6 separate regions of the Homo sapiens genome follow, and regions 1, 2, 3, 4 and 5 are each reported to be linked to region 6. Evidence: microRNA targets listed by miRTarBase, many of them from high-throughput screens and not tested one by one. Region 6 holds a microRNA gene; each other region holds the end of a gene's coding sequence.
The links. Region 6 holds the annotated microRNA hsa-miR-3606-3p (AAAAUUUCUUUCACUACUUAG, at 2,020-2,040, shown strand). A microRNA usually pairs through its seed, bases 2 to 8, with sites in the 3' UTR of a target mRNA and lowers its output. Matches are read on the target gene's strand: a 7mer-m8 pairs with bases 2 to 8, a 7mer-A1 pairs with bases 2 to 7 and ends in A, and an 8mer does both.

Region 1: miRTarBase lists BTN3A3 as a target of hsa-miR-3606-3p. Seed matches in the 3' UTR shown: 7mer-m8 at 1,543-1,549.
Region 2: the mRNA of ZRANB1 is a reported target of hsa-miR-3606-3p. Seed matches in the 3' UTR shown: 7mer-A1 at 956-962.
Region 3: the mRNA of TRIM4 is a reported target of hsa-miR-3606-3p. Seed matches in the 3' UTR shown: 7mer-m8 at 3,590-3,596, 7mer-m8 at 3,434-3,440 and 7mer-m8 at 3,272-3,278.
Region 4: miRTarBase lists DYRK4 as a target of hsa-miR-3606-3p. The part of its 3' UTR that is shown has no 7-base or 8-base seed match.
Region 5: miRTarBase lists ZCCHC9 as a target of hsa-miR-3606-3p. Seed matches in the 3' UTR shown: 8mer at 914-921.

What each region holds. Positions count from the first base shown.
Region 1 is chr6:26,451,623-26,455,710 of GRCh38, forward strand. It overlaps BTN3A3 (butyrophilin subfamily 3 member A3), which reads left to right. Exons shown (of 11, transcript NM_006994.5): 11 at 53-1,793. The coding sequence ends at 789. Among named protein-coding and RNA genes, the nearest start is that of BTN2A1, 4.3 kb to the right of the region's middle.
Region 2 is chr10:124,984,226-124,988,319 of GRCh38, reverse strand. ZRANB1 (zinc finger RANBP2-type containing 1) reads right to left here. Exons shown (of 9, transcript NM_017580.3): 9 at 131-3,546. The coding sequence ends at 3,328. CTBP2 (C-terminal binding protein 2) reads left to right here. Exons shown (of 11, transcript NM_001329.4): 11 at 1-4,003. Among named protein-coding and RNA genes, the nearest start is that of ZRANB1, 44 kb to the right of the region's middle.
Region 3 is chr7:99,888,362-99,892,450 of GRCh38, forward strand. It overlaps TRIM4 (tripartite motif containing 4), which reads right to left. Exons shown (of 6, transcript NM_033091.3): 6 at 2,042-4,089. The coding sequence ends at 3,802. Among named protein-coding and RNA genes, the nearest start is that of OR2AE1, 13 kb to the left of the region's middle.
Region 4 is chr12:4,613,035-4,617,132 of GRCh38, reverse strand. DYRK4 (dual specificity tyrosine phosphorylation regulated kinase 4) reads right to left here. Exons shown (of 15, transcript NM_001394779.1): 15 at 3,258-3,618. The coding sequence ends at 3,380. AKAP3 (A-kinase anchoring protein 3) reads left to right here. Exons shown (of 6, transcript NM_001278309.2): 6 at 1,239-1,615. The coding sequence ends at 1,394. Among named protein-coding and RNA genes, the nearest start is that of AKAP3, 34 kb to the left of the region's middle.
Region 5 is chr5:81,312,159-81,316,256 of GRCh38, forward strand. It overlaps ZCCHC9 (zinc finger CCHC-type containing 9), which reads left to right. Exons shown (of 6, transcript NM_001131035.2): 6 at 386-1,139. The coding sequence ends at 504. It also overlaps a transcript of ACOT12 not described here. Among named protein-coding and RNA genes, the nearest start is that of ZCCHC9, 13 kb to the left of the region's middle.
Region 6 is chr2:188,993,652-188,997,698 of GRCh38, forward strand. It overlaps MIR3606 (microRNA 3606), which reads left to right and starts at 1,979; the gene lies at 1,979-2,041. It overlaps COL3A1 (collagen type III alpha 1 chain), which reads left to right. Exons shown (of 51, transcript NM_000090.4): 17 at 387-431; 18 at 583-681; 19 at 890-943; 20 at 1,073-1,180; 21 at 1,395-1,448; 22 at 2,041-2,139; 23 at 2,474-2,527; 24 at 2,747-2,845; 25 at 3,514-3,567; 26 at 3,685-3,738.

The DNA.
Region 1 (4,088 bases), not on the chromosome of region 6:
AAATCCAGGAAAAATGGCTGACCCCATGGACACCTCCTCAAACTCTCTGCAGCGGATGTGATTCTGGATCCAGACACGGCAAACGCCATCCTCCTTGTTTCTGAGGACCAGAGGAGTGTGCAGCGTGCTGAAGAGCCGCGGGATCTGCCAGACAACCCTGAGAGATTTGAATGGCGTTACTGTGTCCTTGGCTGTGAAAACTTCACATCAGGGAGACATTACTGGGAGGTGGAAGTGGGGGACAGAAAAGAGTGGCATATTGGGGTATGTAGTAAGAACGTGGAGAGGAAAAAAGGTTGGGTCAAAATGACACCGGAGAACGGATACTGGACTATGGGCCTGACTGATGGGAATAAGTATCGGGCTCTCACTGAGCCCAGAACCAACCTGAAACTTCCTGAGCCTCCTAGGAAAGTGGGGATCTTCCTGGACTATGAGACTGGAGAGATCTCGTTCTATAATGCCACAGATGGATCTCATATCTACACCTTTCCGCACGCCTCTTTCTCTGAGCCTCTATATCCTGTTTTCAGAATTTTGACCTTGGAGCCCACTGCCCTGACCATTTGCCCAATACCAAAAGAAGTAGAGAGTTCCCCCGATCCTGACCTAGTGCCTGATCATTCCCTGGAGACACCACTGACCCCGGGCTTAGCTAATGAAAGTGGGGAGCCTCAGGCTGAAGTAACATCTCTGCTTCTCCCTGCCCACCCTGGAGCTGAGGTCTCCCCTTCTGCAACAACCAATCAGAACCATAAGCTACAGGCACGCACTGAAGCACTTTACTGATATTCATTCCATTATTCCATATGACAGTTGTTTTGAGTTTCGTACCACCTTATTGTCCCCTTATACAGATAAGGAAACTGGGGTGCAGAAAGGTGAATTAACTTTACAAAGTAGACATGACAAGTGAACAGCAGAGCTGGGATCTAAACAGCAATAACTAACATTAACAGAGAATTTAAAATGTTCTTAGTGCTGTGTTATAAGCTTTGGTGGATGTCACTCCTTTAATCCTCACAACACCCTGTCGGGTAGTCATATTTTGCAAGTATGGAAGCTGAGGCAGGGCAACATGAAGTAACTTACATAACTCATACAGTAATTTGTGCAGTTGGGAGATGTTCAGCCTTAGTCCCTGGCTAATTGCCTGTTCTTTTCCAGCCTGATTTTTTTTCCCACAGGAAGAGCCCACATGTAGCCCTGAGGTTTCCTTCCCAGGACAGCTGCAGGGTAGAGATCATTTTAAGTGCTTGTGGAGTTGACATCCCTATTGACTCTTTCCCAGCTGATATCAGAGACTTAGACCCAGCACTCCTTGGATTAGCTCTGCAGAGTGTCTTGGTTGAGAGAATAACCTCATAGTACCAACATGACATGTGACTTGGAAAGAGACTAGAGGCCACACTTGATAAATCATGGGGCACAGATATGTTCCCACCCAACAAATGTGATAAGTGATTGTGCAGCCAGAGCCAGCCTTCCTTCAATCAAGGTTTCCAGGCAGAGCAAATACCCTAGAGATTCTCTGTGATATAGGAAATTTGGATCAAGGAAGCTAAAAGAATTACAGGGATGTTTTTAATCCCACTATGGACTCAGTCTCCTGGAAATAGGTCTGTCCACTCCTGGTCATTGGTGGATGTTAAACCCATATTCCTTTCAACTGCTGCCTGCTAGGGAAAACTGCTCCTCATTATCATCACTATTATTGCTCACCACTGTATCCCCTCTACTTGGCAAGTGGTTGTCAAGTTCTAGTTGTTCAATAAATGTGTTAATAATGCTTACTCCTCAGCTTGGCTTTTTCTAGACTGTGGTGTCTACTCAGCACAGTAGTCTGCACACCCACTGTACTCACCACAGTCTCAGTTTACCTCACTGCAGCATTTTCACAAGACCCTTATTGGATGCATTTTCTGTTGTTGCCATCTGAATTACCAGAAATGTATAGACATTTTTTTTTTTTTGAGATTGGATTGTGCCACTGTACTCCCAGGCTGGAGTACAGTGGCACGATCTCAGCTCACTGCAACCTCCACCTCCCAGGTTGAAGTGATTCTCCTGCCTCAGCCTTCCGAGTAGCTGGGACTACAGGTGCGTGCCACCACGCCTGGCTAATTTTTTGTGTTTTCAGTGCAGACGAGGTTTCACCATGTTGTCCAGGATGGTCTCGATCTACTGACCTTGTGATCCACCCACCTCGGCCTCCCAAAGTGCTGGGATTACAGGTATGAGCCACCGCGCCTGGCTTCAGAAATTCATGAACTTAAAGCAACACAAATTTATTATCTCACTGTTCTGTAGGTGAGAAGTCAGAAGTCCCACAGGGATCTCACCAGGCTAGAATCAAGGTGTCTGCAGGCTGGATTCCTTTCTGGAGTCTCTAAGGAAGAATCTGTTTCCTTGCTTATTCAGACTATTGGCAGAATCAGTTCCTTTCATTTATAGGACTGACGTCCCAGTTGTTCCCTGGTTTTTAGCTAAGGGCTGTACCCACTTCTAGAGGCTGCCACACTCTGGCTCCTAGCTCCCTTCCTGTATCTTCAAAGCAGCAACAGCGCATTGAGGCTCATCTCCTAGGTCTTTTTCTCCATTGTGTCTCTCTGATTCTTTTACCTTCTCCTTTTTTTCCTTCCTTTCTTTTTTTTTTTTTTTTCTTCTTTGACAAGGACTCGCTCTGTCACCCAGGCTGAAGTGCAGTGGCGTGATCTCAGCTCACCACATTGTCCCCTGGGCTCAAGCAATCCACCCATCTTAGCTTCTCAAGCAGCTGGGAGCACAGAGCCACATCACCATGCCTGGGTATTTTCTTGTAGAGACAGGGTCTTGCCATGTTGCCCAGGCTGGTCTCAAACTCCTGAGCTCAAGCAATCTGCCCACCTTGGTCTCCCAAAGTGCTGGGATTATAGGCATGAGCCACCACGCTCAGTCTGCCTTTTACTTTTAAAGACTCCTATGATTAAACTGAGATCACCCAGACAATTTAGAATAATCTCTCTATTTTAAGGTCCATAACCTTAATTCTGTGTAAAATTCATTTTACTGTGTTATACATTCTTTTCATAACTTTCATAGTGAATATAGCTCAAAGGGTGGGTGCGGGGAGCACTATTCAGCTCACCACACTGATTTGGGAAGTGATTCCAGGAAACACAAGTGCAGAAACAAATTGAGAAATGAAAAAAAGCCAATTACATGACAAATGGGATAAAGGGTTCACTCATGAGTCAGTTACCATGTGGATAACTTGGCTGAATCCCTTTTAGGACTCTCTAAGAAACCATATGAAATGTGTGATATAGCTCAGAATCTTCCTAAGGACTACAGGGCCTGGGACTTTATCTCCACTTCCCATCCTCCTTTGCTTGAATTGGTTGAAGGTTGGCCTGGGAGTGTTAATTCTAATGCACTTTAAGATTGGGCTATGTAACTGCAGAAAAGCAACTATCACGGGTGTGATAAAGCTCACAGGCAAAGGAGAAGGGAGATACTCACTGGAGGTGGAAAGGTTGTCATCCTTGCAGAAAACTGTGCCTCAGCTATTGGCAAACTGTGATAGGCCAAGAGAATATGGGATGGGGCATCAACAGCGTCTGTTATAAGGGCTCTGCCTCTGAGAATATAGTGAATGCCTTTCAAGGTCTCTCTGCCCTCGCTGTACCACATTTAGCATTAGTGACCTCTTCTCTTCCAATACATGCCCACATCACATGGCCCTGCAGCCTCACCACATGGACTGGGTCTGGGATGGACACCTGACCCAGGCTAGGCCAGAGGACCAAGTGACATGTGGCTAGTTACTCCTGTAGCAGATGTGCATGGGAGCTGTGGGAAGAAATGCTCCATTCATGGTGTGGACTAAACAATGGTGGATTGCAGAGAAGACCAAAGCAGATGAGCAGAGAGAAGGCTACAAGATGGAAAGAGTTTAGGCAAATTTCTCACGTTTGGTTCTTTTAGAAGCCCAGTATCATTTCTTCTTTTTGAAAAAATGTGTTCTTTTGAGGCAAGATAAATGTACTCGTTAATATTGCTTGTAGTCCTAATATTCAGAAGCTTATGCAACTATTATAATATGTTCA
Region 2 (4,094 bases), not on the chromosome of region 6:
TCAAGTACATCTCACTAATGTAAATGTTCTCTACTTGAGATGTTTAAGGCAATTGCATTGTCAATTAGCCAATTTCCAGCTCTTGTTACTACAGGGTTCCATAACCAGACTCAAGACCGCTGACAATTAATTACCTGTGATAACAAAAAGTTTAATTGAAAAATCAAAACCTCACACAAGTCCATCATTATCACGTCATGCCATCCTTAAGATGCAATGGTGGGTTAGTGCTAAATCAATTCAAAAAAAAACAAAGTTGCTCAACTTTTAGAGTTCTGACTTTAATCTACCCCAAAGCAAAATGACCTGGACCTGGTTCAAGGGAGGGAAGTGAACCTTGAAACTGTTTTGCCAATAACCTAACAAACAAAATGATATTTACAAAGAAGTGTTGCAAATAGTCCCATGAGTTAAGAGCTTGATTTAATGGATCTTCTTTTTAAATAGAATTAAACCTTTATACTAAAAGTATTTGCAAGTGTCAATTAAGTCCAACAATTCCAGGTATGAAACTCCCTCTGAGCTCTTCCTTATACTTCCCTTCCCAATTAAAACAAAACAAGAAAATCATGGTGTCTTAAAGCCTTTGGCTTGCCTGGCCTTGTCTGCTCACTCATTTTAAGGTGGTGGCCCCATCCCAACTCTACCATAAAAGTGTCTATTAACACAAGCTCACATGGAGAGAGACGGCGCTCATAGTTACTGACCTATTACCCCAGGGAACAAAAAGGTAGTTTAACGTCTTCGTAACCACTCATCAAAGAGGCAATGAAATATGCGTGAAAAGGAGGCCAAGCGCACACAGAATATCTTACCTTCACGAATATGTGAAGAAGTCTGGGACACGATGAACCTAAGAGTCAAAAACATAAAAAGGCAGGTCTGAATCCATGGTCCACCTGGGTTTTAATTATTAGATCTTGGTCGCCCAAACAAAAATTTATATATATATATATAAATTTGACCCCAAGGAAGAACAAGTCAAAACAAAATGCCACGCTCTGTTTGCTCTAGAAAAAGAACCATCAAGTCCACAGAGTGCAGGTATGACTTACTCTCCAGAGTCAGTCATTAATGTCTGTCACCTAGCCACGTATAATCATCTTTGAAAAAGGACTATATTCTATCTTGGGACAATAATTATGGCTGTTTTAATAGTTCAAGAGCATAATATAGCATTGATTTACCAAAATTTTTGGCCTTTAACAGCCAGTCTATGAAAACCATTTAGAGCCCCATTCCTGTCTGTAGCCTAGGAAATGGAACCATCTTTAATTCTTTCCCACAGGGAAGAATGCTGCACCTATCACACTATGTGGTCAGGGTCACTGATTGATAATAAATAAATAAATAATAGAGCGCTCAGGGGAAACAACACTCACCAGACCACAACACACAGTAGAAGCTAAGTGCTGAGCGTGTACTCTGGACAACGCTGGCTGCAATGCAGACTGCAATGGCTACATGCTTTTCCCTCTAACAATTCTCTTTGGCTTTTTCAATTGGGAGGGCAGATTTTGCTTAACAGGCAACTAGAACAGGATCTCTGCCCACTAAAAAATTATCCCTATACATAGAGAAATTACTACAGATGCTAAGTAGTCAGAATGCTAACATTTTCTACAAACTTGATTACTTATTGGCCAAAATGAAAGCAAACAGCCAATTTTTAACAACACATTCACCACTTGAAACAAACAGCAGCATTTACATTATATCAAAGATTCATTTCTACAGAATCGTACTAAAAAATCATTTTTCCTGCAAGATTTAGCATGCAGCAAAAAATGATCTTTTCATCCTGGGAACACCTTTTTACTGAGTTTTCGGGGGGAAAGAACTAAAGACATGACAGTTTTGTGGGTATTTTTCTATTTTTAGTATTCTGGCAGCAAATTTGAGGTTGTACACATTTCATTATCAACTAAACAAAACAAGAAGCAAGCAAATACTTTAAGGTTTTCACAGCCTTTTTCATCACAGGGAAGGAAAAAACTGTGTGTGTGTGTGTGTGTGTGTGTGTGTGTGCGCGCGCGCGCGTGCGTGTGTCGTCTTTCCAAATTCCTGGCCACATCAATAGTCTAGAAAGTGCTTATCAGGACACCAAATATTTCTGTGTTCCTGAGATAGGTCTGAAATTTTTACCCAGTATTGAATGTATACCTGAAGTGGTCAAATAATACTTCTTATAAAAAAGTTTTTCTACCTAAGATTATAGTTTTAACTTTAAATTAAAGAATGGCCACAATTAACCAACATGCAAAAATTCTCAGACTAAACACTGAGAAATTCTTCATACAATGCATTTGCCACCTTATTGCATTTTTAAAATCTTTATTCTGTAGTGAATTGGTATTCCCAATCTGCCTAAGCAAAGGCATGCCCTTCTAACAAGATTTGCTTAGAGCAGAGGTGATAGAAGGAAGAATCCGAAGACCCTCTGGCATGGCAATCTGGGAGCAGCACATTGTTGATGGAGTCCAAGTGAGCACATTTCACACAATTCATTTAGTGACAAGTGGGCTTGCTCCCTTTTCATCCAGGAAAAAAACTACTCACAGACCACTGCCCAGAATCTGGAATAAGAACCCTCATTTTAAGGTATTCTTCCCAACAAATAAATATCTAAATATTGAAAGGGGGCATATCAGAAAACTTAAAGACACAATAACCAAAACCAAAACCCTCTTCAAAACAAGTAAGCAATGTCTGTATTTAGTTCACTCTAAAACATTCTTAGCTTTTCTTGCAGTTTGTTCCTAAAAGATTTGATTGGGCACAAGAGGAACGAAATTATTAATAAAATAAAAGCTTATTTTTGTTTTGCTGTGGATAATCGGTACAAAACGTTTCCAGATCTGAGACTTAGATGGATCTTTTAAGGTGAAAGTAGAATGCCAGGTTCTACTGAAATAATATCTGAAAGGAACAAAGAGCCATTTGCCATGTGCTTTTTCTAAGTGCCCATGCTGGAAAAAATTTTCTCAATAATATGAAGATGCTGGTACAACTTTTCCTATTAAACAATGTCTTACACAACCACATGCGTTACATTTATAGACAGATTTACAATTTGGAAGGAAAAAAAGTTCTGTCTTAATAAAATTAGTTTTTTTTACAAACTGTAGTCCAACTAAAGTTCTCTGTCTCCTCACGCAGCAGAGGCATTATCTCCATAAGGTGTGTGTGGTCCAGGAAAACACTTCCCCGAGCAGATCCTGCCAGATTTGGTTCATTCCATGATGTCGACTCTGCTTGGAGCACCACACTAACTTTAGGGTCATTACAGATCTGATGCCTTGGTCTTCTGCTGTTTGATTTTTTTTTTCATTCATCTTCATCATCCTCATCTTCCTCTCCATCAGACAGGGATGTACACGGCCGGATCTGTCGGTAGCGGTCAAGCCATTTTTCTACCATCTGAGTGACCAGGGGGTGATTTCGCCGCCGAGAACTCTTCTGCATGGCAACCAGAACTCCCCCCTCCGTCACACAGCAGTCCAGCCACTCCCTGAGCAGTTTTTCTTGCTGTTCCTCATTACCTAGCTTTTGGAGGAATATGAAGACAAAGGGAAAATCATACAACAGATCAGAGACTTGGTAGGAATGTGACATGGAAACCTACAGCTGGTATGCTAACTCATGAAAAGGCCAAAGCAATCAACTTTTCACATGGTTTTGACCTCTTGGAAGTTTTGTGATTAAAGTCCAGTTTGCTCTGGTTAAATTTAAAAAGACATAAATGGGAAATTTCTCAGAAAAAAACTAAAGAGGAGCACACTAGAGGGTAATTTGTTAGATAAAATAAAAAACAAATGTCCTAATAAACTGATCCTGGCAAGCCACAGCTTCAAACACATGACAAGGTAAGTTTACTTAGTCAATTATGTACAAGCTGAAATTATACAAGTTACGGTCTATGAACTTTTTTTCTTCATGTTGTGATTATAAACGTTTTATAATTACTAGTATATTAAATAAAAGACCAATACTTTTATAAGAATACTGGCTTTCTGAAAGAGCGTTGTTTTTGTACCTTCTCACCACCTCCCCTGTCTGGTCTACAGCACCCTTTCACTCCCCTTCATCTACAA
Region 3 (4,089 bases), not on the chromosome of region 6:
GACGGGGCGGCTGGCTGGGCGGGGGGCTGACCCCCCCACCTCCCTCCCGGACGGGTCGGCTGCCGGGCGGAGAAGCTCCTCACTTCCCAGACGGGGTGGCTGCCGGGCGGAGGGGCTCCTCACTTCTCAGACGGGGCGGCTGCTGGGCGGAGGGTCTCCTCCCTTCTCAGATGGGGCGGCCGGGCAGAGACGCTCCTCACCTCCCAGACGGGGTCGTGGCTGGGCAGAGGCGCTCCTCACATCCCAGACGGGGTGGCGGGGCAAAGGCGCTCCCCACATCTCAGACGATGGGCGGCTGGACAGAGACGCTCCTCGCTTCCTAGATGGGATGGTGGCCGGGAAGAGGCGCTCCTCACTTTCCAGACTGGGCAGCCAGGCAGAGGGGCTCCTCACATCCCAGACGATGGGCGGCCAGGCAGAGACGCTCCTCACTTCCTAGACAGGGTGGCGGCCGGGCAGAGGCTGCACTCTGGGCACTTTGGGAGGCCAAGGCAGGCAGCTGGGAGGTGGAGGTTGTAGCGAGCCGAGATCACGCCACTGCACTCCAGCCTGGGCACCATTGAGCACTGAGTGAACCAGACCCGTCTGCAATCCTGGCACCTCCGGAGGCCAAGGCTGGCAGATCACTCGCGGTTAGGAGCTGGAGACCAGCCCGGCCAACACAGCGAAACCCCGTCTCCACCAAAAAAATACGAAAACCAATCAGGCGTGGCGGCGCGCGCCTGCAATCGCAGGCACTCGGCAGGCTGAGGCAGGAGAATCAGGCAGGGAGGTTGCAGTGAGCCGAGATGGCAGCAGTACAGTCCAGCTTCGGCTCGGCATCAGAGGGAGACCGTGGAAAGAGAGGGAGAGGGAGAACGTGGGGAGAGGGAGACCGTGGGGAGAGGGAGAGGGAGAGGGACAGGGAGAGGGAGAGGGACTTGGTTGGCTTTTTAAACAAAAATGAACACCTAGGTCCCATCCCATACCTGATGAGACCAGAGGGGTCAATATCAAGACTCAAGCACAGAGACAAAGAATTGTGAAGAATAAGAAGGGTAGGGGAAAAGAATTTTTTCTCTGTTGAAGATGCAAGTTCTTTGCAATCGTATGAAGGGGGACTCATGAAGGCTTAAAAGGAAAAGTTTGGAATCATTGCCACCAAAGACGTTAAAACAAGTCAAGTGATAAAAAAAGTTTACCATGCAGCTCAAAGGGCCCACTTGAAGGCAGAGAGCAAGGATTTATAGCAGAATCAATCAACCTTTCAATAGCCAGAAGGAAGAGAGGAGGGAAGGTACTGATGAGTTTCCAAAGGATTAGCTATTAGTAAGACAGGCACTGAAGGACGTCCTGAAGGGCAAGTGTAGTCATCATTTCCTAAGGTGGCCATAACAAACTGGGTGGCTTAAAACAATGGAAATTTACTGTCTAACCTCAGTTTTGGCAGTTAGAAATCAGAAACCAAAGTGTTGATGGGGCCATGCTCCCTTCAAAGCTTCTAGGGGAAGATTCTTCCTGGCTTCCCCCAGCTTCTGGTAGCCCCAGGTTCCTTGGCTTGTGACAGCATAACTCCAATCCAATCTCTGCCTCCATCTTCCAGAGCCTCTTTCACGTTGTTTCCATCTGGCATTTTTCTGTGTGTGTGTGGGCATGAGTGTGTGAACATATGCATAAGTTTCCTTCTTTTTATAAGGACACCAGTCATATTGGGTTAGAGCCCACCCAAATGACCTTATCTTGTTTACATCTGCAAATATCCTATTTCCAAATAAGGTCATTTTCACAGGTAGCTCTTCAACATATGTTTTTGGGGAACATAATTCAACCTATAACAGCAAATATCCTGGGAAGTTGAGAACTCAGTAGAAACTGTTGAATGAGGGGGCTGCTCAGGCTGAATAGGAAGACAAGCCAAGATGGCTGATGTATAAGAAGGGGAGGAGGGGAGGAGGAGTTAGGGAAGATGCTGTAAGTTGTGTAAGAATCCTCACTACCACCATTCAACCCAGCAATCCCATTATTCGGTATATGCCCAATACCCAAAGACATCATTCAACCATAGAGACATATGCATGTATATATTCATTGCAGCACTATTCACAATAGCAAAGACATGGAATCAACCTAAATGCCCATCAACAGTAGACTGGATAAAGAAAACATAGTACATATACACCATGGAATACTATGCAGCCATAAAAAAAGAATGAGATCATGTCTTTGCAGCAACATGGATGGAGCTGGAGGCCATTACCCTAAGCAAACCAACACATGAACAGAAAACCAAACATCACATGTTCTCACGTATAAGGGAGAGCTAAACATTGAGTACCCATGGACACAAAAAAGGGAACAACAGACACCAGGGACTACTTGAGGGTAGAGGGTGGAGGAGGGTGGGGTATCAAAAAAGTATCTATTGGGTACTATGCTTATTACCTGGGTAATGAAATAATATGTACACCAAACCCCTGTGACATGTAATTGATCTATAGAACAAACCTGCACGTGTTCCCCTTAAACTAAAATATAAGTTAAAATAAAATCCTCGTTAAATCACTGCCTGAAAGTCTTTACTGAAAATCTGGGAGAAAATATATTGAAATGTTAGTAGTGCATAACTTTAATTTTTATACTTTTTGCATCTTACAAACTTTCTACAATAAGTACACATGACTTATATAAACAGAGAAAAGCAATCATTATCTTAAAAATAACTATCCAGTAACTGCCACAATCTCCTGAGTCCAGACAATCTAGAGCAGAAGGGTAGACTGAGGAAAATATACACAGTATAAAAAAGTAACAAAATCAAAACCTGAAACAAAGATCAACATCCAATAAATGCTTCTGAATAAAGGGAGAGTAGATAAGAACTGGATTTTAATCCCAACACTGCCATTTACCAGCTGGCCAATACTGAGCTAGTTACTCTAAAGAGTTCAGTTTTCTCATTTGTACAAATAGGATTTGACTTTCCATCTCACTGAGTTGTGATGAGAGTCATATGCAACAGCATATGAAGAGGCTAGCAAAAGATATTTAACAAGCGTTCAACATTCTCATGATGACATGAATAACACTGTACATACAACATACCAACTTGATAAATACACAGCACAGTTAATAGCTGAGGGCAGAGTTATGGTTGGGAAGAGAGAGAGTGCAACATAGGCAGAGTGAGGGGGGATTCCCACAATTTTCTAAGACAGAAAAGTGGGGGAATCAGTAGTTACTGGAAAGAATAGGCAATGCCTGACTGGATAGAAAAAGATTCTATGCCTTTGTCAAATTTCACAAAAGTGACTTAAGCCTATACTGCGGGATGTTCACACTACGTCCCTTTAGTGCAGTTACGGTACTTCAGGCTGCAAGTAACCAAATACAACTAAAATTGTCTTATACAATAAGGGCGTAATTATCTCATATAACAAGAAGCTTGGCATGAAGGAAATTTCAACAATTTCACAACGGCAACAAAAACTCTGTTTCTTCTACCTTTCCACCATTCCTGTGTTCTCAGTTCCAATATGGCTGCTAACATCCATATGTCTTCCCCGCACATCTCTTTAAAAGCTACAAAAAGATTTCCCAAAAGCGTCTTGGAAAATTTCCTGTCCCATCTCCATTGGCCAGACCCACCTCCCATGGGACTGCCTCTTGTGAAGCACACAAAGGGCAGATACCAAACGGTACCGTTAGGGAGACCCAGAAGATGGACCATCCAGGATAGAGACATGAAGGGCAGAAGAGGGCCCAGGGATGTGTGTCCCTCAGCTGGACTACAGGGAAGGAGTTTTGGTCAGGGGAAGAAAAGCCTCATTTCCTATCAGTCACTGGTGGAATGACTAAAGATGCTAATGGACTCAACCAAAAAAATGGCCGGAGGCGTGAGACAGAAGAACAAGAAAAGGTGTGCAGGTGCACTCCGTCCACAGCGCTGTAGAAGGAGACATTCCCAGTCCCACGATCCAGGTAAACCCCCACTCGGTGGAGAGCTGGCTCTTGCTGGGTGGGAGTTCCAGGGAAGCCTATCAAGGGCCAATAGCCAGCAGCACTCCAATAAATCGCCCAGATGCCCACATCTGGGGACATTTTTGAACGATC
Region 4 (4,098 bases), not on the chromosome of region 6:
GGCTGTCATTTGACTTGCAGTTCCCCTATAAATGGTTTTCTCTGGATGCTTTTAAGATTTTTTTCTTTTTCTTTAATTTTCAGTGATTTAGTTATGGTAGGTCTTGGAGTTAATTTCTTTGGGTTTGGGTTTGGGTTTATTTTATTTTAGGTACCCTGAGCTTTTTGAATGTATAGGTTTAAAACTTTTTGGCAAATTAGGAATACTCTCATCTATTATTTCTTCAGATATGTTTTGCATCATCGCTTTTCTCTTCTTTGGTATTCTAATAACATAAATGTTAAAGTTTTTGGTATTGCCCACAAGTCCTTGGGCTCTGTTTATTTTTTAAATGTTTTTTGAAATAAGTTTAATCAATTTCATATGTTGTTCAGCATGGATAATTTTTATTGATCTACCTTCAAGTTTACTGACTTTCCTCTCTCATTTACATTCTGCTATTTAGCCCATCTGACAGGTTTTTATTTTATATTTTGTAGGTAAGTTTTAGTTCTAAAATTTCCATTTGGTTCTTCTGTTTCAGTTTCTCACATGGATATTTCTCTTTCTGAAGAGGCTCTCAATATTTGGTGTGTTTATTTGCCTGCCCTTTGTTGTAAAAAGTCAAGAGCAAAATGAACAAAATAAAAATCTGATTACTTGAGAGAGTTTGTTGCCCTTAGGATTCCAGATAAATGACAGCGTTGTATTTATATTAGAATGGTTGCTTAACTTTCTCATTTTGTACTTGGAAAAAGAGCTAAAGATAGGCTCCAATACCTGCAATGAATTTTGGTTCTGCTAATTACTAGCAGTTAATTCTGACAAATCTCTGTACTTCTCTGGGAAACATTTTCATGAGGGTTGAATTGATCTCTGAGGTGCCTTTTTGCTCTAACATTTTAGGATTCTGTGGTCTATGGGGCATGGAAAGCAGCATCCACATTTGTCCACTGGACATTTTCCATCCTGCCCTGTTGGTCTTAGGACAATGATGGAGACTTTTATGATATTAGGGTGAGCTTAGAACCTTAGAATTCTTAGAGAGCAAGATCATGGGCAGGTGGGTGTTAACATCTCTTCTTTAAACTAAGAATGAAGTCACCAACCTCCTTCTGTTAAACAGGCCAGCAAACTTTAAAGTCTGTGTTGCAGTTTCCCAAGGTCTGCCTGGCCTCTCTGCTCCAGCCTTGGCAGGCTCCATCTGGCCTGCCATGAGATGCTGTGCCTCACCACTGGTGTTTTCTTTCCTTTCACAGCTACTTCAGCTCTCAGCTGCTGCTGTGGACAAAGGATGCAGTGTGGGCGAGGTTCTGCAGTCGGTGCTGCGCTATGAGAAGGAGCGCCAGCTGAATGAGGCGGTGGGGAATGTCACACCGCTGCAGCTGCTGGACTGGCTGATGGTGAACCTGTAATCGGCAACCCCACTGCTTTCCCCTCTTCTGGCAGTGGGGCCGGCCCTTATCCCCGCCCTTCTTTCTCACTTCCACATCTCCCCCTCTATATCCTCACAGAGCCCTAACATTATCTTCACACCACTCTCATCAAAGACATGTCATCTTGTGCTAGCCACTGGATTTTGCAGATTTTCCTGTCCATGCAAGCAAGGACGTAAAATTAAAAAATTACAATTAAAGGGCTCCACATGTTTTGTTTCCTTGGGATCCAATGGGACAATCAGGTAAAGAAATCCCAGGAGTGAAAAAAATAACCAGATGAATGGTAGAGGTACAACAGAGCTGGACTGAGAGGCCCTGCTGAAGGTCACTCAGCCTGTCCCCTGTCTGTGTCACAATTTGCAGCTTCCTTATTTAAACTATTCTCTTAAAATAAGCCACAGTTTATCAAGAATTCATTTTAACCTTTTATAACCATGAAAATCAGAAGATACTTTTGAATTATTCAATCAAAATCATCCTGATTACAATGTTGAAGACCTGGCTTCTTATTCTCTGTAGAGCTGCAGAACAGTGTCCACCTCCAACTTCATCCATGGTTGAAGATCGTTTCAAGAATGTTCCCAAGGATCTGAGTTCTATTGCTGGTTTTGTGGCTTTCTGGCTATAGAAACTGGGATAAGTTACCTGTTCTAACACTGCTCTGACTTAATGTCCATATCACCCCACTTAAGAAATATTTTCTGTTCTTACCCTGGATTTTCTGTGGAATTTTCTATCTTGACTCCTCTTTCTGTCTAGAAACTTCTCCATTGGCTTCTAATTTTCTTTCTGTATCTCTGGGTCTCTTGGAGGACCTCCTCAACTCTGGCAACTCCTTATATATTTGTCTTTCCTGGGACTTTCTCTCAACCCTCTGCTATTCTAACTCAAGATTTTTCCTGGGAGATTACATCCAAATCCATTGCTTCAATGACCTGGTGTCCCCCTTCATAAAATATTATGCAACAATTAAAATGAAAACTGTACTGGGGGGAGGTTATTCCAAATGGCAAGCAAAAAAGAAAACTATTTTTATATACTCTATGTTGTTTCTGATGTTATGATCTTAAGTTTCACGTAAAATTCTATCTGTCCTATGACAACCACATAAAAATTATGTATTTGTGTAGATGAGGATTAGAAAGGGAAGTAAGAAGACATACTTAGATTTGGCGTATGGTAGATGAGTGAACATGTCCTGCTTGTTTACTTAGCTTCCCTTCCTTTGGGAAACCTTCCATCCCTTGCTCTAGTCTAGAGAAGCATCAGTCACAGTGCCTTCACCATCACTGTGGGCTTGGGGCCCAGACTGGCCAAGCATCCCAGTATCCCAGTCACAATTTCTGTGTCACAATCATTTTGGAGACTCCCTGTTAGCAAGGAAGCCTGTATCTTTTTGACTGGATGTTGGCGGTTAACTTCTGAGCAGGGCCTGACATCAGGATGAAGTTAACCATAGTGAGAAGCAAGGCTAATAGATGAAGAGGGAGTCTGAGCCCTACAACCTCATTTGAATTCCTGGATCCTGCTGCGCCTGAAACTACATCTACCTTTTCTGATGCCCCAATTATGTAAGTCAATAAGTGTCTTCCGTTGTTTAAACTGCTTTTGAATTCAGCTTCTATCATTTTCAAACAAAAATCCTGACATAGGTTGGCAGTCATGGGCAAGAAGAAAAAAAATTTCTTTTGTTTGGAGTTCCATTAATGATGCTGTAACACTGAGAGTTCAAAACTACCCGCCCCCTCTACACACACAGATGCATATGGAATGAGTTTAAGTGCAAGGACATCCTCCCCCATCCCTCATAAGAGGAGTCATGCCAATTGGCCATGTTAATAGAGTTTTTTAACATAAAGTTTTATGTATTTAAAAAAAACAGTCTGAAGTATTGTACAATATAAGTGCTGTCTTAATACAAATCACTGGTGGAAAGGAGCAGGACATACCCTCAGCAAAGGTCATACAATAGGGGGTAAAACGTTTGTGTTCTTGAGGGAGAAGTTTTTGCTCTGTCCTGGGGAGGTCATGGACACCTCCGCCCCGACAGCTGCCTCTGACTTCTTGGGAGCGTCTACCAGTTGAGGCAGCTGAACAGTGTCAGCTCCGTGCTGGAGACAGTCCTGCTGATCACCTGAATGCTGAACATGCTTCGTGGGGCTATCTTTTGTTTTCTCTGTAGTCTCTTTGGTGATCTCATCTGCTAAAGGAGAGAGAAGACAGAAGGGAACAAGATTCAAATGTGGATTATATGTTAATTGTCCTTTAGGTTGTACATCACTTAGTGGAAACGATGACCGTGATGATATAAAAACAGTTCATTTGTAAAGCACCTCCAATGTGCCGGGCATTATTCTAAGCACTGTACATTTACTAATTCGTCTGATCATTTCAGCGACCCTGGAGAACAGGCTTTATTCTCATTCTCATAAATGGAGATACTGAGCTACAGAGAGGTTAAGTCCACACCTGATAAGTGGTAGAACCAGAATTTAATCCCCAGGTAACCTGACTCTTGTGACCATGTACCTAACCACTAGGCTATATTGCATATAAAAATTTGCATAATGCCATAATCTGGCACTGACAGAAATTCTAAAGGTAATTATAGGGCATAAAGGGGTGGACGCAGTTAATGAAAAAGGGAGGAGGAGAAAGGAAATTGATTATAGGAGAAAAA
Region 5 (4,098 bases), not on the chromosome of region 6:
GACAAGCAGATGTTGTATAATTTCACAGGTGGAATCTTGTGCATTTAAAACTGATGCTTCATAAGCCTTGCTGTTTACAGACTCTTGGAATTCATTGACTCTGTAATGATGAACTCTGGGAAAGAATGAAAGAGCTTTCTCATCAGTTCGTGCATTGCAAAGTAGTTGCTGCATTTCCCTAATTGGGATGAGAAATTGCCTGTGGTACTCTGAAATCAAGGGTTATAATCAATTACAGAATTGCTCACTTTCCTTTAGTGATGGAGTCTTCCCTCCTTGTGATTATTCATATCAAAATGAGTTCCTTTCCCAAACCAATAACAATCTGAGTGGATGCATTTGATTACTGTTTTTCTAACATTCTGATTTTTCTATTCCTTTACAGAGCGAATGGTCACAGTTGGTCGCTGGGCAAAGGGAATGAGTGCAGACTATGAAGAAATTTTGGATGTACCTAAACCGCAAAAACCCAAAACAAAAATACCTAAAGTTGTTAATTTTTGATAACAGCTAGCACTATCATGAGTTACTACCTCATTGTTACTTTCTAAACCAGGCCCGCTTCACGAGTTAGAGTTGAGCTCCCCTGTAGCCAGGACTATGCTGTAGATATCAGTATGATCTGGGTGTGGCCAAAAACAATTTTCTTTATTCTGTCTATCAAATAGTACTTCTACCACTGTTTGGAGAAAATTGAAGAAAAGAATAAGATGATTAAATGAATTCTCTAAAAGAACATATTTTAAGAGACAGAACTTAGACATAACCAAGTAGTTGTATACCTGATTGTAACAATCATCTTTTATAAAAGCAAAATTATGCATAAATGTAAAACACCCCTAAACAAAGGGAACAAATGAATTTTTGGTTATATTGTTTTCTTGGCTCAAAGTATCAATTTATTATTATAATAGAAATTTATAAGTTGCTAGAAAGTCTATATTTTTAAAGTACGGAATAAAAATATGTTTTCTATTAAGCAATAGAAATATTTTTGTGTATAATTTTTCTGAATACTTGATTCTCGATTGAAATATCCATTGTTCGTTAATATCCATGTAACAATCCCATTGGAAACAAGATTTTTTTTGAATCCTAGATGAGAATAAACAGGGATTTGGTTTTTGTTTTAGTTTTGACATAAAGGATTCCAAGTTACTGAAGTTAAAATTGAAATATCTCAGTTTAACAGCAGCTCTTTTTTGCCCTTGATTTTCAAGAGAGAACTTCTAGCCAAAATTCAGTTTTTGTTACTTAACCAGAATGATGGCAGATAACAGATGGTATAATAAACTTAATAGCATTTTGTTCTCATGTTTTAGATGAGTCAGAGTAAGATGGAAGTATCACCATAATAGAGTTAGAACACTAATCAGAGACCCATTAGCTTCTTTGTTTGATTTGATGAATTCATGCATACTTAATACATATATTTCACAAGGCTTAACACTACCATTGTACTGTATAATGGAATGACTCTAGTGGTTTTGTGTTTCATTTGAAATTTTACCTGATTGAATCCATTTGTAACTAAAGGAAACAGCTGTGATTAGTTACTGATGCCTCAAAAGCAAAATATTTACCAAATAAGAAAAGAAACACTTTTCTCTGTTTTCATCTCTGCACAACTCGACAGTTCTAGTCTTAATAGGAGCTGTTCTTTTATTTCAGTGTGAGAGGAAAACATGACAAAATACTGCTCAGCATCCCAGAGCTTAAGGAAATGAGTGCTATTTAGAAGGAATTGCACAAGCCAGGCAGTTGGAAAAGGACAGTAATGCTGCCTTAGTCATCTAGTCCGAACGCACCCAGATTTATTTCACCTGTCCCATCAGGAGCAGAGTCTACAGCCTGTCAGCTGAAAGTTAGGTCTAATGCTTTTTGTAGTCTTCAGTGCAAGAATGTTGGTATCCACTTTGTCTTTTTTGGATTACTTTTTGTGTGTGTGTGTGTGTATAATTTTTTTTTTGATAGCTCACTCTGTCACCCAGGCTAGAGTGCAGTGGCACAATCTTGGCTTACTGCAACCTTTGCCTCTTGGCTTCAAGCGATTCTCCTGCCTCAGCCTCCTGAGTAGCTGGGATTATAGGCACGCACCACCACACCCCGCTAATTTTTGCATTTTTACTAGAGATGGGGTTTCACCATGTTGGCCAGGCTGGTCTCGAAATCTTGACCTCGTGATCTGCTCGCCTCGGCCTCCCAAAGTGCTGGGATTACAGGCTTGAGCCACCATGCCCGGCCTACTTTGTTTATATTTTAATGATCTATAAATATTAGGCAGTGAAGTCATTAGAAATAAACTGCAGGTACTGAATGTAACATTAAACACGTGTAGAGACACTAAAAGGAATGCACCAGAGGCAGAAATCCTGAGAGATCCTGAGTGTTCATTAAAAGGAACTATAGACGTTGGTTATTTTCTTAGCTAAAAATGCCTAAAGAGGAAGGCAAACAATTTATTCATTCATCTTATATATTTCCCAAGCACTACTATGTTCCTGTTACTCTTATGCACTTGAAATTGTGGCAGTCAGCAAGACAGACAAGACCACATGCATTATAATGGGGCTGAATAATGGACAGGAGACTTAGGGAAAATACCAGCAAGAAATGTTTTATTACATTCCTAAAATATTTTTTGAATCCCCTGAGACTTTAAAAAATTTTTAAGATGGGGTCTTACCCTGTCACCCAGGCTGGAGTGCAGTGATGCAATCGTAGCTCACTGAAGCCTCAAACACCTGGGCTCCAGCGATCCTCCCGCCTCAGCCTCCTGAGTTGCTGGGATTACAATAGGCATGAGCCACTACACCCAGCTGAATCCCCTAAGACTTAGTCTTTAGTGCTCCTTCGGTCTTTTGTAAATTTCATCTCTTCTTACAAACTTATCTTTCACTTTTCCATAAATGATTCCTAAATCTCCAGCTAGCCCTAAAATCCCAGGTTTCAGTCCCGTCTTTTCACCTGCCTCCTGAATGTTCCTACTGGGATGCTCCACTAATACTTCAAATTCAATATGGCTTTAAACAGACTCACTTTCCCCTGGGGAAAAAGTGAGTTTACCTTTTTGTCTCTTTTTTCACTACAATTATGTTCCAAGCCATGAGGCCTGAATCTCAAGTTGCTCTTTACTTGACATTCCCTCCAGTCCCCATGGCCAGCCCCCCATCCCTGCTTATTTCCTTCAGGCATCTGCTATGACCAGCTTGAGTCTTTCTATGACCATCCTTATAGGAAAGAGCAGCTCCTTGCTTCCTCATCCCAATACCTAACACTATAGCTCTATTTGTTCCCTCTCTACCAGATTATAGGTTACACGAGGGCAGGAATTTTGATTCTTGTTCATTGCTATATCCCTAGAAATGCTTGGAATGTATGAAGCATTTGCATTTGTTGAATGAGTTAATTCAATGAGTGATATAAAAGGAATCAACAGAGAGATGATGCAAGTGACTGGGTAGCTCTTAGATTGGATAATCAAGAGGAGGCCTCTGTGGAAATTTTAAAGCTGAAATCTGAATGACACAAAGGAACCAGTCTTGAGTTAGCCAAAACCCCTAAAGAGAGAATGAGTTTGCCATATGTGAGGGACAGAAAGGAGTGTAGCTGAAGCCTAGAGAAGGGCCACATCAGGGCTATTCTGACCACCCTATTTAAAACAGAATCTACATCTCCATCCTAACACTGGCACTCCTGGTTCCCCTTACTTTGCTTTATGTTTTTCTGTGTCATTTATCACCTTCTACCATATTAAGTTATTTATTATATGTGTCGTTTTTGTCCCATCTCTCTGCTAGAATATAATCTCCACGGGGGGTGGATTCTTGTCTGTTCACTGATATACCCCAAATGCCTAAAACAGTACTTAGCACATAGTAGGCCCATAATATGTATTTATCATTTGACGAAGTCAGAGAGGTGGTGGGGGCAGTATCACACTGGAAAATTTAGGAAGCCATGGGAAAGTTTTGGTTTTATTCCCCTAACAGCTTTATTGAGATATAATTCACATACGATAAAATTCACACTTTTAAAGTGTACAACTAACTGGCTTTTAATCTAGTCAGAGTTGTACAACCATCGCCATTAATTCCA
Region 6 (4,047 bases):
TAGTTTTTGACTGTTGCACTATTCCAGAATTCATGATTTTTTATGTTTATATAAAAGAATAGAGGATAGACTAGTTTTCTGATGCTTTCAAGAATGTGCCCCAAGCTAATCACCAATCATAAAAATTCAGAGAAGAACCAAATTCAAAATCTCTTCTATTTATGTATCATTTAATAATTTATACGAAGTACATATTATCTCTAATTTATTTAGATAATGATGATTCTTTTGACCACATTTCATATGTTGTGTTATAGTTGGAGGATTCACTTAATCTCTACAAAGCATAACACTCATCGATACATTTATTTTCACACAAACAACTTCAAATATATACGAACTATTTGCATTACTATTAATACATTATCTGTTTTTTGTATACTTAGGGCCCTCCTGGGATTAATGGTAGTCCTGGTGGTAAAGGCGAAATGGTAAGCTGTCCCCACTCCTCAGCCTTATCTCATCCACACATTACTGGCTTCTTTTGCATTTTGCATGACAATAGATTTGTGATATTTAAGTGAGATATTCATAAAAGAACATTCAAGTTCGGCTAATATAGTGTCTTTGGTTTGTTCTTAGGGTCCCGCTGGCATTCCTGGAGCTCCTGGACTGATGGGAGCCCGGGGTCCTCCAGGACCAGCCGGTGCTAATGGTGCTCCTGGACTGCGAGGTGGTGCAGTAAGTTGCCTTGTTTTTTCTCTGTTGACTGAAAGGTATAGTTTAATTCCATCAACAAAAAATTAATAGCAAAATTTTGCTCCTGTTCAGTTGAATTTATATTGACTTCACTCTTGTCTTATAACTTATAACTGAATTATGTGTTACTGGTGATGATTTGTTAGTCGAATCCTCCCTGTGTTTCAACCAAGACTTTGTTATACTTTAGGGTGAGCCTGGTAAGAATGGTGCCAAAGGAGAGCCCGGACCACGTGGTGAACGCGTAAGTTTTACTGCAACAGATCTGGTTATTTCTTGAAAAAATGCAACATAATTAGAAAGTAAACAGGTAAAAACTTTGAACTAAATTCAGTCATAATTTCTTTATTTTACCATCTTTTTTTTTTTTCAGGGTGAGGCTGGTATTCCAGGTGTTCCAGGAGCTAAAGGCGAAGATGGCAAGGATGGATCACCTGGAGAACCTGGTGCAAATGGGCTTCCAGGAGCTGCAGGAGAAAGGGTACGTTTTCCATGGGGCATCTAAAAGAAAAGCAGCATCACTGTCATCTAAATAAAACTACCTTCAGGGTGAGACAGCCAATTTTTCTTAAGTTGAGTGTTCAGTGAAAATATTGTTTAAAGCATTCTATGACATAAAAATATTTGCCACTCAAGAATTATGAAAAAGAATTGAAATCCTTTGGACTGAAATACTTGTCTTTCATTATTTTCAGGGTGCCCCTGGGTTCCGAGGACCTGCTGGACCAAATGGCATCCCAGGAGAAAAGGTAGATAACTTTAGTTTCTATGTTCCTAAATGCTAGCACCACAAATGGGCAGTTCTTGTATACAATTTCTCATTCATGAAAACCTAAATATCTGAAGAATATATATTAGAGTTAAGAAAAATTCCTAATATAATGCATCCTCTGTTCAACAACTTTCCTGGCTTTGTAACTAAAGCCACTTACTTACCCTCTATGAGAATCCTTTACTTATCTGTTAATTGGAAAGCATTTATCTGAGCATCGTTGCAAGAGTACAGTAAACTAAAATGCCTGAAAAGTCTTTGAAAACTCTAAGGTTACATCAAATATGATTTCATAGCATTAAGATATTTGATTTTAGCTGCACATAATTATATTTTTAAGCACAGTGAATACTGTTTTATTAAGCATGTGATGTTCACAAAGTTGCTTTAAAATTTTTTCAATATGGCAATCCAAGCTAAGATAACTGATTTTATGTATAAATGTTTCAGCAACACACGAACCCTTTTTAAAAGTTCAAATGACGTCCTCTCTTTGTAACCAAAATATTGTTGCTATCTAGGTTAGTGAAGGCTATTTTAATTTTTTTAAAATTTCTTTCACTACTTAGGGTCCTGCTGGAGAGCGTGGTGCTCCAGGCCCTGCAGGGCCCAGAGGAGCTGCTGGAGAACCTGGCAGAGATGGCGTCCCTGGAGGTCCAGGAATGAGGGTACAGAGAAACATTTGTTTGAATGACACTTTAATTTAGACAGAAGAAAGGCAAGACAAATGAAGACAGATCAAAAGCAACTTAAATCAATCAGATTACATATTTTGTAAGGCACCAAACAAAACAAAATTCTTTTAAGTAAACTTAAGCCGAGATAGTTCAAGGAGAAGAGAAGATAGAACACTTGCCTTAGATACTTTATAGACAGGAAAAAAGATGTGCAAATCTGAGGCTTCACATGTAAGTGAAAATATCAAAATCATACAAATAGTGTATGTAGTAATTTTTTATTATTTCATTTTAAATCACCTAACAACTGACTTCTTTACTTCAGGGCATGCCCGGAAGTCCAGGAGGACCAGGAAGTGATGGGAAACCAGGGCCTCCCGTATGTACATTTTTAAAATCTCATTTTAAAAGGCCAGTTAAAATGGAATGTATATGTTGGCCTATCCTTGAGTGTGTGTGTGTGTGTGTGTGTATATATATATATGTATATGTATATCTATATATATACACACACACACACACACACACATACTATATATATAGCATGCTTTAATCTTCTCTTTATCAAACCTTTATTAATGTAATTTTTTCTTATTAGGGAAGTCAAGGAGAAAGTGGTCGACCAGGTCCTCCTGGGCCATCTGGTCCCCGAGGTCAGCCTGGTGTCATGGGCTTCCCCGGTCCTAAAGGAAATGATGTGAGTTCCTTCATTAATTTCTTCAATAAATATTTGACTGGAAGGCTTTTATTTTCCATATGGAGTAAAGAAATGGTCAAAACTCAGTCTCCTCTTCAAAGCATGGAGGAGTATATGAAAATCAAATTGCATGTAGGAAGGGAGCTAAATATATAATTGGTTATGGTTGTATGTGTGTGTATGGAGCAGGCAGATAAAAAATATGAAACAGGCTGGGTGCGCTGGCTCACGCCTGTAATCCCAGCACTCTGGGAGGCCAAGGCAGGCAGATCACCTGAGGTCAGGAGTTCTAGGCCAGCCTTGCCAACATGGTGAAACCCTGTCTCCACTAAAAATACAAAAATTAGCCAGGCATGGTGGCATGTGCCTGTAATCCTAGCTACCCAGGAGGCTGAGGCAAGAGAATCACTAGAACCCGGGGGGCAGAGGCTACAGTGAGCCAAGATTGCGCCACTGCACTCCAGCCTGGGCGACAGAGCAAGACTCAGTCTCAAAAATATGTATGTGTGTGTGTGTATATATATATATGAGACATATATATATGAGACATATATATATGAGACATATATATATGAGACATATATATATGAGACATATATATATGAGACAATAATATGATTAGTTATTGCCCTTTGAGGATTAGTAAATACCGACCACTTCTTCTTTAGGGTGCTCCTGGTAAGAATGGAGAACGAGGTGGCCCTGGAGGACCTGGCCCTCAGGTACGTAGCTTTCCTCAATTTATTTCTAGCCTTCTAATAGATGCGTTCATCTCCAACCTTCTGACTTCTCTCTGTAATCTGTATTATTTCTACTTCCCTAACTGTTCTTGTTTTTAGGGTCCTCCTGGAAAGAATGGTGAAACTGGACCTCAGGGACCCCCAGGGCCTACTGTAAGTTCACTCATATAAAATTGGAGATGAAAATAGGGTGGAGGTGGGGCAGGAAGAATGCTTCAAAAATTACATAATCTCTGACACCATGTTGTTACAGTTTACCAAAGCAATGATGAAACTTGCTGACCTAGTTATCTAGCTAAATGCTAGCATTGAGTTTAGAGTGTACATGTGTGCTTTGGGTCCAGGTCCTCCCTTTTCTTCACATCACTACTTTTATAATTAAGCAACAGGCCTGTTGAAATGGATACTGTAGACTAAATATAAAAGGATGTTTACAACAGAGTGTATCATTATACTTTTCTA